3 linked regions of the Homo sapiens genome follow. The protein of the gene in region 2 interacts with the protein of the main gene of each other region in a pairwise test. Each region holds a gene or a part of one and is shown on either strand. Other genes may lie near its edges. The genes, in order: SOCS7, OSTF1 and CUEDC1.

Region 1 (3,653 bases), on a different chromosome or scaffold from region 2:
GTAACAATAAAATAATGTATTTTGATTTTTTTTTTCCCCTGGAAAGTATGTTGTCAGTGATCATGGAAAGGCCTTGGGATGCGGTGTACATGCTTTCATTTGTTTTGTTTTCATGCCTTCAAATAAAATTTTAAAACTATCTGGGCCGGGCATGGTGGCTCATGCCTATAATCCCAGCACTTTGGGAGGCTGAGGCAGGTGGATCACCTGAGGTCAGGAGTTCGAAACTAGACTAGCCAACATGGTGAAACCCCGTCTCTACTAAAAATACAAATATTAGCTGGGTGTGGTGGCGGGCGCCTGTAATCCCAGCTACTCGAGAGGCTAAGGCAGGAGAATCGCTTGAACCTAGGAGTTGGAGCTTGCAGTGAGTCAAAATCGCGCCACTGCACTCCAGCCTGGGTGACAAGAGCAAGACTCTGTCTTAAAAAAACAAACAAACACTTTGGGAGGCTGAGGTGGGCGGATCACAAGGTCAGGAGATCAAGACCATCCTGGTTAACACAGTGAAACCCCGTCCCTACTGAAAATACAAAAAATTAGCCCGGCGTGGTGGTGGGTGCCTGTAATCCCAGCTACTCGGGAGGCTGAGGCAGGAGAATGGCATGAACCCGGGAGGCAGAGCTTGTAGTGAGCCGAGATCGCGCCACTGCACCCCAGCCTGGGCGACAGAGCAAGACTCCGCCTCAAAAAACAAACAAACAAACAAAAAAACTATTTGAACTTAAACCCCAATAATAGTAGATATTTTATTTTCCAATCAGTTGTGTCTATAGAATGTCTTTTGATATGACAATGGCTGAGAATTCTTTGACAGGTTTTGCAACTCAGATTTTCTCAAAGAATCTTGTTTACCTTCCATAGCCCCTTTGTTTATTGAAAGCAAAATATTCTTAGTTCCCTTGAATCCCAGTGTTCCTGCCATTCTGGATGTCTCCATGCTGTGGCGTGGGGCCCTTTTTGGGGTGGGATTCCCCAGCACAGAGCCTGCTAATACATAAGGGTGTGGTACTCCCATTGAGTCTATTTGGCATCAATCAGCAGGCGGGTTTGCACTGAGCGGTACTAATCCTAGCTTGCCCAAGCGATTGTAGTTGTTCTTTTAAAAGCATCATCTTTTTTTGGTCTCCTGGCCTAAAATTTCAGAAGCAGGAACTGGGGGTTATGGGGGTTGGGTATAAAAGGTAGCTAAACCTGATTATCCTGGCTTGAAATAATGGCAGGAATAATAGGCTTGTTAACTTTGATCCTAGCTGTTACCTTCTACTTACCAGCCTCCCTGCTGAACCAGCCTCTCTGCTGAACCAGCCTCTGCTGAACCAATTGGAATTTGGTGGGGACTCCTCTGAACGGCTTTTCTGGGTCCTCACCTTCAGGATACTGCTAGATGTGCCCAACAAGTATCTCCCATTCCCAGCAGGGATACTTTTGATTCTTGGCCTTCCCGAGAGCCTCAGGCCTGGGATTGGCCACTTGGGTCCAAGCAGTGTCTCTAGTTTGGCATAATTGGGCTACTCCGAGGAGCAGGACTCTCAGCTGTTATGAGTGATGCTAGGAGCCAGGCACAGTGGCTCACGCCTGTAATCCTAGCACTTTGGGAGGCTGAGGCGAGTGGATTGCTTGAGCCCAGGAGTTCGAGACTAGCCTGGGCAACATGGGGAAACCCCGTCTCTACTAAAAATACAAAAATTATCTGGGTACGATGGCATGCATCTGTGGTCCCAGCTACTCAGGAGGCTGAGGCGGGAGGATTGCTTGAGTCTGGGAGGTCAAGGCTGCAGTGAGCTGAGACTGGGCCACTGCACTCCAGCCTGGGTGACAGAACGAGACCCTGTCTCAAAAAACAAAACAAAAGACACACAAAAAAGTGATGCTAGGGAGGCCTTTGGCAGAGAATGGATTTCCTTAATTGTGAATGTGGTGGTGGTGCTTCTGGAAATGGAAATCAACAGCACTTTGTGGAGGGGCTTTTGCACAGAATACATATATGAACCATAAAGAAGTCCCATTTCCCCTCCCTAGGTTCTCTTCATACAAGAAATGGTAGTTAGCTCCATTGTTTCCTCTGAATACTTTCCTTTGTTTTCTTTCTTGAAGGACTGCCACCAACTCCTGTCCAGCTGCTCTATCCAGTGTCCCGATTCAGCAATGTCAAATCCCTCCAGCACCTTTGCAGATTCCGGATACGACAGCTCGTCAGGATAGATCACATCCCAGATCTCCCACTGCCTAAGTACAATGGGGTTGTCAGGTTTGGGACAGGAATGAGTAAGGGGGTTGTGGGGAGGTAACAATGTCAGTGAGGCCTGCAAGCTACCTTCACAGGCAGAGTCTGGCATAAAATATTTGCAGATGTCATTCTTACACATTTCCTGTGTCTTAGCACCTAACTCTAGAACTGTCATATTGCAGCCAGAGGGAGGAAGGTGTGTGTGTCAGCCTTCCTTCTGCAGTCTCTAGGAAGAATAGAGTAGAAGTGGTAAGAGTAAGGAAGACAGAACTATAATAACTGAGAAAATGGGGATTGTGTTAGGTCTCAACCATGTAGGGAGTGAAGAAGAGTTGAACAAAGGAGTTACTTCTTTTATATTTTGTATAAAAACCTTTTGTGTATATCCGTCATTTGTTTTTCACAGACCTCTGATCTCTTATATCCGAAAGTTCTACTACTATGATCCTCAGGAAGAGGTATACCTGTCTCTAAAGGAAGCGCAGCTCATTTCCAAACAGAAGCAAGAGGTGGAACCCTCCACGTAGCGAGGGGCTCCCTGCTGGTCACCACCAAGGGTATGAGCTCTCTGCCTCACTGCCCAGCCACATTTCTTCCTGGGCAGTCATCATCATGCATTGAGCCTTGGGCCCCCTCCCCACAACTCCCAACATGGATAGCCCCGATCCAGGCATTTGCCCATAGAATGACAAGATCTGACCGTGGAGTCCTCAAGGGGCACACACCCCATTTGGGAGAAAAGCAGACAGACGAGAAAGACAAGAAAGTAGATTGCCAGGAAACGTGCAAGCTAATCACTGAATGTGAGCAAGGAGGGGGACACCCAAGTGTAGCTAAGAGTGCGGCCTCTGGCAAGGAGAGGGTAATTGAAAAAAATAAGAAGAAGAGTGCAGCCTCCTCTCATACAGACTTGGGCTGATCTCCCTGATACTGCACAAATGGCATATAAAGCAGGAAGCTAAAGGGAAAGGAAACTTCATCAAAGAGAATGCAAACATGCCTTTAATTGCAACAGGCATGCACTTCAGTGAGACTCCACCATGTCCCACAGCTTGGAATATGGGGATGAGGAAAAACAGCCCACTCTTCTATTTAGCGTTCCATTTGGGCCATTACAAAGTAAATTGTTGAAACTAAGGAATTCATTTATCTACGAGGCTCTTCTCCCATCATTACACAGTTCTACCCATTTATTTTCCCATAAAACATCTTGCAATACTGGTTTGTGCAGATGAATTCCAATTAGTCTTTTAAATTGCACTAAAGTGAACATTGTGGGGCCAAGTTCCTGAGTAGGGAACACAATTGCCAGGGAGCCATGACTTTGGTGGTGGTGGTGACAAGCAAGATTGACTGCCAGTGTGCAGTGACTGCTTTCTTCTGGTGTGGATCCTGGAGTAGATGTACAGTCTCATCATGTCTT
Region 2 (3,653 bases):
GTCTGCACTGTGGCAAATCATCCTCTCTTTTTAATAGAAGTAAGAATAAAATAAAGAGCAGAAGTAACCATCCAAGGACACAGAATATGGGCAAAACTTAGGATAGTGGAGTAGAAGGGGACAGAGTTTTCCTATTTGTCTCTCAGGCTTTAGCTTAGAAAGCTACATTTTACCAAGTTGACATGAAGTCCTGAAGGTCCTGGGTGTGTGTTGGGGGAGAACAAAATATATTCCTCCCACTTCTTGTGAACTCCTCTTGAGGAGAGTGGAGAAGAATAGAGTCAACCTGGAGACTTCCAGTAGCTTGAAGGCTGGTGTGAAGTCAGTGAAACATGGCCAGGTGTGGCGGCTCACACCTGTAATCCCAGCACTTTGGGAGGCAGGGAGGATTGCTTGCATCTGGGAGTTCAAGACTAGCCTGGACAACATAGTGAGATGACGTCTTTACAAAAAAAATTAAAAACTAGCTGAGTGTGGTGCTGCATGCCTGTAGTCTTAGCTACTTGGGAGGCTGAGGTGGGAGGATCACTTGAGTCCAGAAAGTCAAGGCTGCAGTGAGCCATGATTGTACCACTGCACTGCAGCCTGGGTGACAGAATGAGATCCAGAAAAGAGACTTGGCCTCTGTTCTGCTTTATCTTTCCTTCTCTCTCTTGCAAGATAAATCGGCTTCCACCTCCCTTGTACTGATCATCCCTTCTTCTTTTCTTTTTCTCAATAATCATTTTCCAAAACATGTAAACATGAAAACTTTTTTTTTTAAAAGAGCATTAGCATACCTAAAAAATAATTCCTTAATATTCCTTAATATCATCAAATATCTTGTCCTTGTCCAAACTTCCATTTTCTCATACATCTTTGTTTTTACTTATTTATTTACTTATGGTTTATTTAAGTCAGGATTCACATAAGGTCAGTTTGTGATTGGTAGATATGTCTCTTTATTTATTTTTTAAGCAATAGTTCCTTTCCCTCTCTTCTTCCCCCTTTTTAACCTTGCAATTTATTTATTAAAGAAACTGGGTCAACTCACTTGAATTTCCCATTGTGGACATTGCTAACTGCATTCCCATGGTGTTATTTGTCATGTTCCTCTGTCCTTTATGTTTTTGTCAATTAGTGTTAGATTTAGAGGTTTGATCCAATTTAGGTTCATTCTATCAATCAATCAATCATGAATCAATCATGTATCTGCCTGCCTATCTATCTATCTATCTATCTACCTATCTATCTATCTAATCTATCTATCGGTTTGATCTAATTTAGGTTCTATCCATCTACTTACCTACCTACCTACTTACCTACCTACCTAGCTATGTATCAAATCTAGCTAGCTAGCCAGAGGTTTGATCCAATTTAGGTTCAATCTATCCATCTCTTCACCTACCTACCTATCTACCTACCTACCTAATCATGTATCTTTCTTGGTAGTAGAAGGAATAATAAATCATATAGAATATTGTGTTCTTTTATCAGGGGCACATGATACCTGGTTGTCACTCTTCCTGTGATGTGACATCCATTGATGATCGTTGCCTAGATCTGTTACTTCACTAAACGGCACAAAATGATGATATTCTAATTAAATCACTTCTTTTTGAGTTATTAGCTGGAACATTCTATTAGGAAAAGTTTTCCCTCATCAATTGTTTTGTTACGCAGAGGAACAGTTAATGTAGCAAGGGCAGGATAAATGCTTGATTTTTGACCTTTATTTAAGAGGTTTTAAAATAATAAGCTGGTCTCTGTCATCCTCCAAAGGGTGACAGATGAGTTCTTTTTGGTGTGCCTTGAAATATTTAATGTGCTTTAATCCATTCCAATTAGTAGCTTTATCAATAGCCCATCTTTGGCTAGTGGAGGCCTCTTTAAGTTGAATCTCAGACCCTTTCACGTGATGCTGTCTTTGTTAGGATGCTTGCTTTATGACATGACTAGGGTTCTAGGTCCATCCCTTACACTTCCTGCCCCATACTTGGAACCGGTCATATGTATAATAAGCTTCAGAGATGTGATACTTAGAGATCATGAAGATCTGGGTGCTGTGACATATATTTATTGAACTTCAACAATGTGCTTGTGTTTGCATTCTGTTTTTCCCACTAAAATTATACTTGGGCTAATCTGTTGCTATAGGAATTTGACTAGACAGTTGAAGGGGTGACTGTGAAAGATCAGATGTCTTCCTTTTGAGTCCTGTTCAAGTTTGCTTGAACATTTGATGGGGTCCAGCTCTATTTTAAAACTTTTCCCCCCCATTTCAGCCTTTTGCTTTATTGTCGGTGTTTTCTACATTGAAATGGAAGCTTCTTTGTTTTCATTCTTTCTTTTCCTTTTTCCCCTTCGGTAGTTAACGTCCTACCTAGTGACTTTGCCTTTAGGCAAGACCTCAGGCTGTCACTGGGAGAGGAGGTTGGAAGCTCAGTTGTCAGAGTGGAGTGCTGCTGGTGGTGTATCATGTTGGTCATGGTGCCTGTGGCTAGGCCTTTCTGTTGGAAATGGATGCATGGCACCTAGGACCAAAACTTCTGCATGACTGTGGAACGCATCATCAGCCTCTGTGGCAACAGAAACTTAATGGTTAGGCTGAAAAGCAAAAGCAGAGAAAGATCCTCAGGGAAAGTACAATCCCTGGGTCAGATGGAAGATTCTATTCTAATTTAAGAGCTTTGAAAATGAAAAAATAAAATCTGAGCAGTTTATAATTTCCCTATTTTGCTTTTTTCCCTCCTCTTTCTTTCAGATGCAGTTCGAACATTAAGCAATGCCGAGGACTATCTCGATGATGAAGACTCAGATTAATTCCTTTCTGGAGCTTTGAGATCTAAAACTTCTGTTGCTTTTGCCATTCCAAAACTTTGTCTTTGCCAGAAAAGTGTTGGTAACTATAAAGAAAATTATATATGAACACGGCAGTGTTGCACTGTGTTTGAGTAGAACGTGTAAATGAATTGTTCCCACCTTTGGTTTGCCAGTAAGTGACTGGATTCTTGGCACATTTATGTTCACCAAAGTAGAACAAGAAGATATTATTTCTATTTATCAAGCAAAAGGAATTTTAAGATTTTTTTTTTTCTTTAAAAACAAATTAGGATTTTTTTTTTTTTTTTTTTTTTAGTTAAAATGCTTTACCTCAATGGTTGAGATATTTTGAATGGATTTTTCAAGGGGGGGAAATGCTTATTATAATAATAAACCAAAATACTTAACAGAAAATTGTCAGCTATTCTGACAAAAATAAACATTTTGAGAGACTTTATTTCTTTTGTCCGTTTCTGTGGTATCACTCATTGTCGTTAAGTAAGTAAAGCTTTTTATATTTAGGTAAGAACTGATTTTATTTTTTAAATTATATTTTATATTTATTAGCACAGAAGAATAATGAGAGCCACATTTTAGTTCAACTTCTTGTGTTAGCTTTGATCAAAGTCAGGACAATAATCATTGAGAAGGTGCATGTCTAATAAAATAGGTAAATTTAATAATTGTGAGACTTCCAGTTTTTATCTCCAAGGTTGTATTTAGAGTGGAGAAACCCAACAACTCATTACAGTTTCGCTAAGATTTGAAAGGTTAAAAAAATTTATTTCCTTATGATAGATGCCATACTTTTCCATATGGAGTAGTCAGGAACCATGAAATTTTTTGCATTC
Region 3 (3,653 bases), on a different chromosome or scaffold from region 2:
ACTCTTCAATGAAAACATCTAAAAACACCCCAATCTTCCAGCAGAGGCAACCAATCTAGCATTCAGGAAACCTTTAAACACTAGTAAATAATATTTGTGGAAACAAATTCTTTGGTAGACATATGCCCCCATGCCCAAAGTCTAACTATATCTAATAAATAGGTTAAGCCCATTTCTTCTAGCTGTATTATGAACATTCATGCAAAGACATCCGCATAAACATTTTTGTAAAGGTTTTCCCATATTTCCAGAATGTGGTGAAATCTCCTTATGGCCATGCTGAAAAGAATTGGAATAAAAAGAATTTAACATTGTAGCCCTGGCTTTACCACTAAGTAGCTGTGTGATTTCACAAAATGAAAATAATAACAATAACAGCAGCAGCTAACATTTAATGAGGACTTACAATATGCAAAACATTGTGCTAGGGGCTTAATAAGTATTTGGTAGTAATTAACAATCATTATGTAATATTTTGGCCGGGCGTGGTGGCTCATACCTATAATCCCAGCACTTTGGGAGGCTGAGGTGGGCGGATCAGTTGAGGTCAGGAGTTCAAGACCAGCCTGGCCAACATGGTGAAACACTGTCTCTACTAAAAATACAAAAATTAGCTGGGCATGGGGTAATGGAGGGCGCCTGTAATCCCAGCTACTCAGGAGGCTGAGACAGGAGAATTACTTGAACCCGGGCGGGTGGAGGCTGTGGGTGACAGAGCAAGACTCCACCTCAAAAATAAAAAATAAAAAAAAAACACCAAAAAACCATTTGGTAATATTATTACTCCCACTGTATGGATCAGGAAACTAAGACTCAGAGAGATTGAGTAACTTGCCCCAAGAACACAGCAGCAACTAGCAGAGGCTGGGATGAAGCACAGGCATTCTGATTCAGTATTCTTAATTACATACCATTGGTCTTTTCAAAGCACTTAACGACCCACAACCTCAGATTCCTCCAGGAGCCAACCAAGCAAGCAGTCTTCAGAATCCTTTCCAGCTGTAAAATTCAGTGATTCTCTCTTTTCAAAATAAAATGAATTTATAACTTTGAGAAATAAAATGTAATGATGCTCTAGTACTGCTGAGGGAAGGAAACATCTGTGTATGCCTCACCCAGAACCAGTCAGGGGAGGAAAACTGCTGATTTTCTAGGGTAATGATGTCCTGTGAACCAACCAGACTGGCCTCAAGCCGTCTCAGGAAAAATGACAGCTTGAAGTTCTCAAAGGATCCACCAACATGCAAAGGTCTGCAAGTTCGCAACTATCAGTTCTCAAACTTTAATTTGACTTTTTTTTTTTTAAAGGAAACTCATATGCAAGAAAATGCTGCACCGTAGAGGCTGATCTTAAGAATGCCAGTACAAGATGTATGTTGACTCTGTGGCATGCTCACACTTGCTTTCCTTTCAGGTGTACACCTGCTCAGGGAAAATCCACCCGGCCCAGGCAATCTGTTTTAAGACTTCCCTAGCTCGAGGCTCAGTGGTCCTGTAATTGGGTGGGGGTTTTGTCCTTTGCACATCTGATATCTTCATACGCTCCCTCCTGCTCATCATCACCAGCCCGGTCTCTGGACACACAAACACGCAAGTGCTGCCTTCCCCAACTCCATCTCGGACGCATCTTCTTCCTCTCTCTGCTCAACACAGGAGTTCCCTGTTCACACACCTTGCCATTGGCTGACACAGCCAATGGTGAAACTCCCCCAGCTGACCCTCCCTGGAGCTCACTAGCTCTCTCCCAGCTGTGGGTACAGCCTGAAACCGAAACTAATCTCAGACCAGAGCAAAGTGAAATCATTTCAGGAGCCTGATCACCCTACATGACCACAGAGAGGCTTCCCCTTAACAGAGCTCCAAATCCAGCTTGCTGGTCACCAGGAGAAAAAAAAAAAAAAAAAGCTTTGCAGTGCCCTCCTAACATCAAATACTTTCTTAATGAATAGGGAATCATGGGATTAGAGGAGGAAGCAAAAGTTCTTGCCGTCGTGTTTGCTGCTGCTACTTCTCTCTTATTTGCACAAGTCTATTTCAGTTCACCCCGTGAGCTAAAGTTCACCACCCGGTATTATTTTTAAACTCATTGTCCAGCATCCGTTCATATTTGGTTCACTCTTAATCAGATTATCTTCCAAGAGCAAGCTTTGTTCTCTTCTGAGATCCCTGTAACCATCTTGCTGTAATGTGGCTGAGACTGTTATACTACATGTTTTTCGTAAATTTGAAAAACGAAGCGTTTTACTTTTGTGCTCGAGCCAGGCACGGTGGCTCACACCTGTAATCCCAGTACTTTGGGAGGCTAAGGCGAGTGGATCTCTTGAGCTCAGGAGTTCGAGACCAGCCAGGCCAACATGGTGAAACTCCATCTTTACTAAAAACACAAAAAAATTAGCTGTTTGTGATGGCGTATGTCTGTAATCCCAGCTTCTCGGGAGGCTGAGACACAAGAATCATTTGAAACTGGGAGGCAGAGGTTGCAGTGAGCTGAGATCACACCACACTGCACTCCAGCCTGGGTGAAAGAGCAAGACCCTGTCTCATAAATAAATAAATAATAAAAAATAAAAACACTTTTGTGCTTGGAACAATACAAAAGAAAAAAAGCAAAAGCCATTATGACTGAACATAATGTCAGGCCTTGATGATCCTTCAAAGAAGTATAAATGTTGAGAAGGATCCTAAACTGTGTTTTCTCTTCTTACCCTTGCCCCCAGCATACTTGTGGGCAGCTTTCTTTGTGGCTAGGCAGTATTATGAAAAAAAGCCTACTGTCAGCTTAAGCAAAACAGAATAAGAAGGGTTAAGTGCACTGGCCTAACAAGGGTATGGTCAAAGAGAAATTAAGTCTTGGATTATCTGTTATTTACTCATTCATCCAACAAAGTTTACTGAGGGCCTCATATATATGCCTAAAACTCTTCTAGGTGCATCTAGGAGATAACCCACTAGCTCCAACTGAGAGTGCCATTCTCAGAAACACTGTGTGTATGGGGGCTGATGCTTTCTGTATTCCAATACCAAGACAAATGCTCCACTACTTCCAGGTTTCCTGAGCTCTCCTCACACGGCTTGGACTCCATCCCCGAGAGCTGTAGGTCCCTCCCAGTGAGCACCCCCGGGTGATGCTGACCAGGAACATTGCGGGCCAGGGTCACCTGGCCCAGAGCTGTTGGGCAGACTCTGTTTGTGCCTTGGCTCACTCATTCATGGATGAGCTGCTCAGTGTTATCGGGCATTCTTCAATCACTCCAACAGTCAAAGGAGGGGTTAGGCCAAATTTAAGTAATCTTCTAGCTCAAAAATTCCAGCTCCTTTTATCCTCCGATCACCGAGCTGACATGGACCTCTAGGGGCCTCTACTTCATCTTCCTGTCTCCAGATGAAACCTCTTAAACCACAAAGACAAATGAAACTTGTTCCCATTTCTGAAGACCTTCAGGGGAGGCCATTCCCCTCTGTGCCTATGAGTCACTTTTCTTACATCTCACATCCTATCTGGAATGTCTTCCTCATACCTTACTTGAATCCTCCCTCTGTAGTTTAAATTCATTTGCCTCTGGTTCTAAGTGCAGAGAGACAAGAGTGAATCACTGTGTTCTGAGCAATGACTCTTAAGGGACTTTTATGTCTTCTTCACCATGTTCACTGCA

The links.
Region 1: the proteins of OSTF1 (region 2) and SOCS7 interact in a two-hybrid assay, tested with the Homo sapiens proteins (one large-scale study listed by BioGRID).
Region 3: the proteins of OSTF1 (region 2) and CUEDC1 interact in a two-hybrid assay, tested with the Homo sapiens proteins (one large-scale study listed by BioGRID).

What each region holds. Positions count from the first base shown.
Region 1 is NC_000017.11:38,393,212-38,396,864, forward strand, and holds part of SOCS7 (suppressor of cytokine signaling 7), read left to right. Parts: intron 1-2,097; coding exon 2,098-2,233; intron 2,234-2,636; coding exon 2,637-2,757; 3' UTR 2,758-2,787; intron 2,788-3,653. UniProt on the Homo sapiens protein: Substrate-recognition component of a cullin-5-RING E3 ubiquitin-protein ligase complex (ECS complex, also named CRL5 complex), which mediates the ubiquitination and subsequent proteasomal degradation of target proteins, such as DAB1 and IRS1.
Region 2 is NC_000009.12:75,143,940-75,147,592, forward strand, and holds the end of OSTF1 (osteoclast-stimulating factor 1), read left to right. Parts: intron 1-2,743; coding exon 2,744-2,802; 3' UTR 2,803-3,326; downstream 3,327-3,653.
Region 3 is NC_000017.11:57,945,261-57,948,913, forward strand, and holds part of CUEDC1 (CUE domain-containing protein 1), read right to left. Parts: intron 1,633-3,653; exon of another isoform or gene 912-1,632; intron 1-911.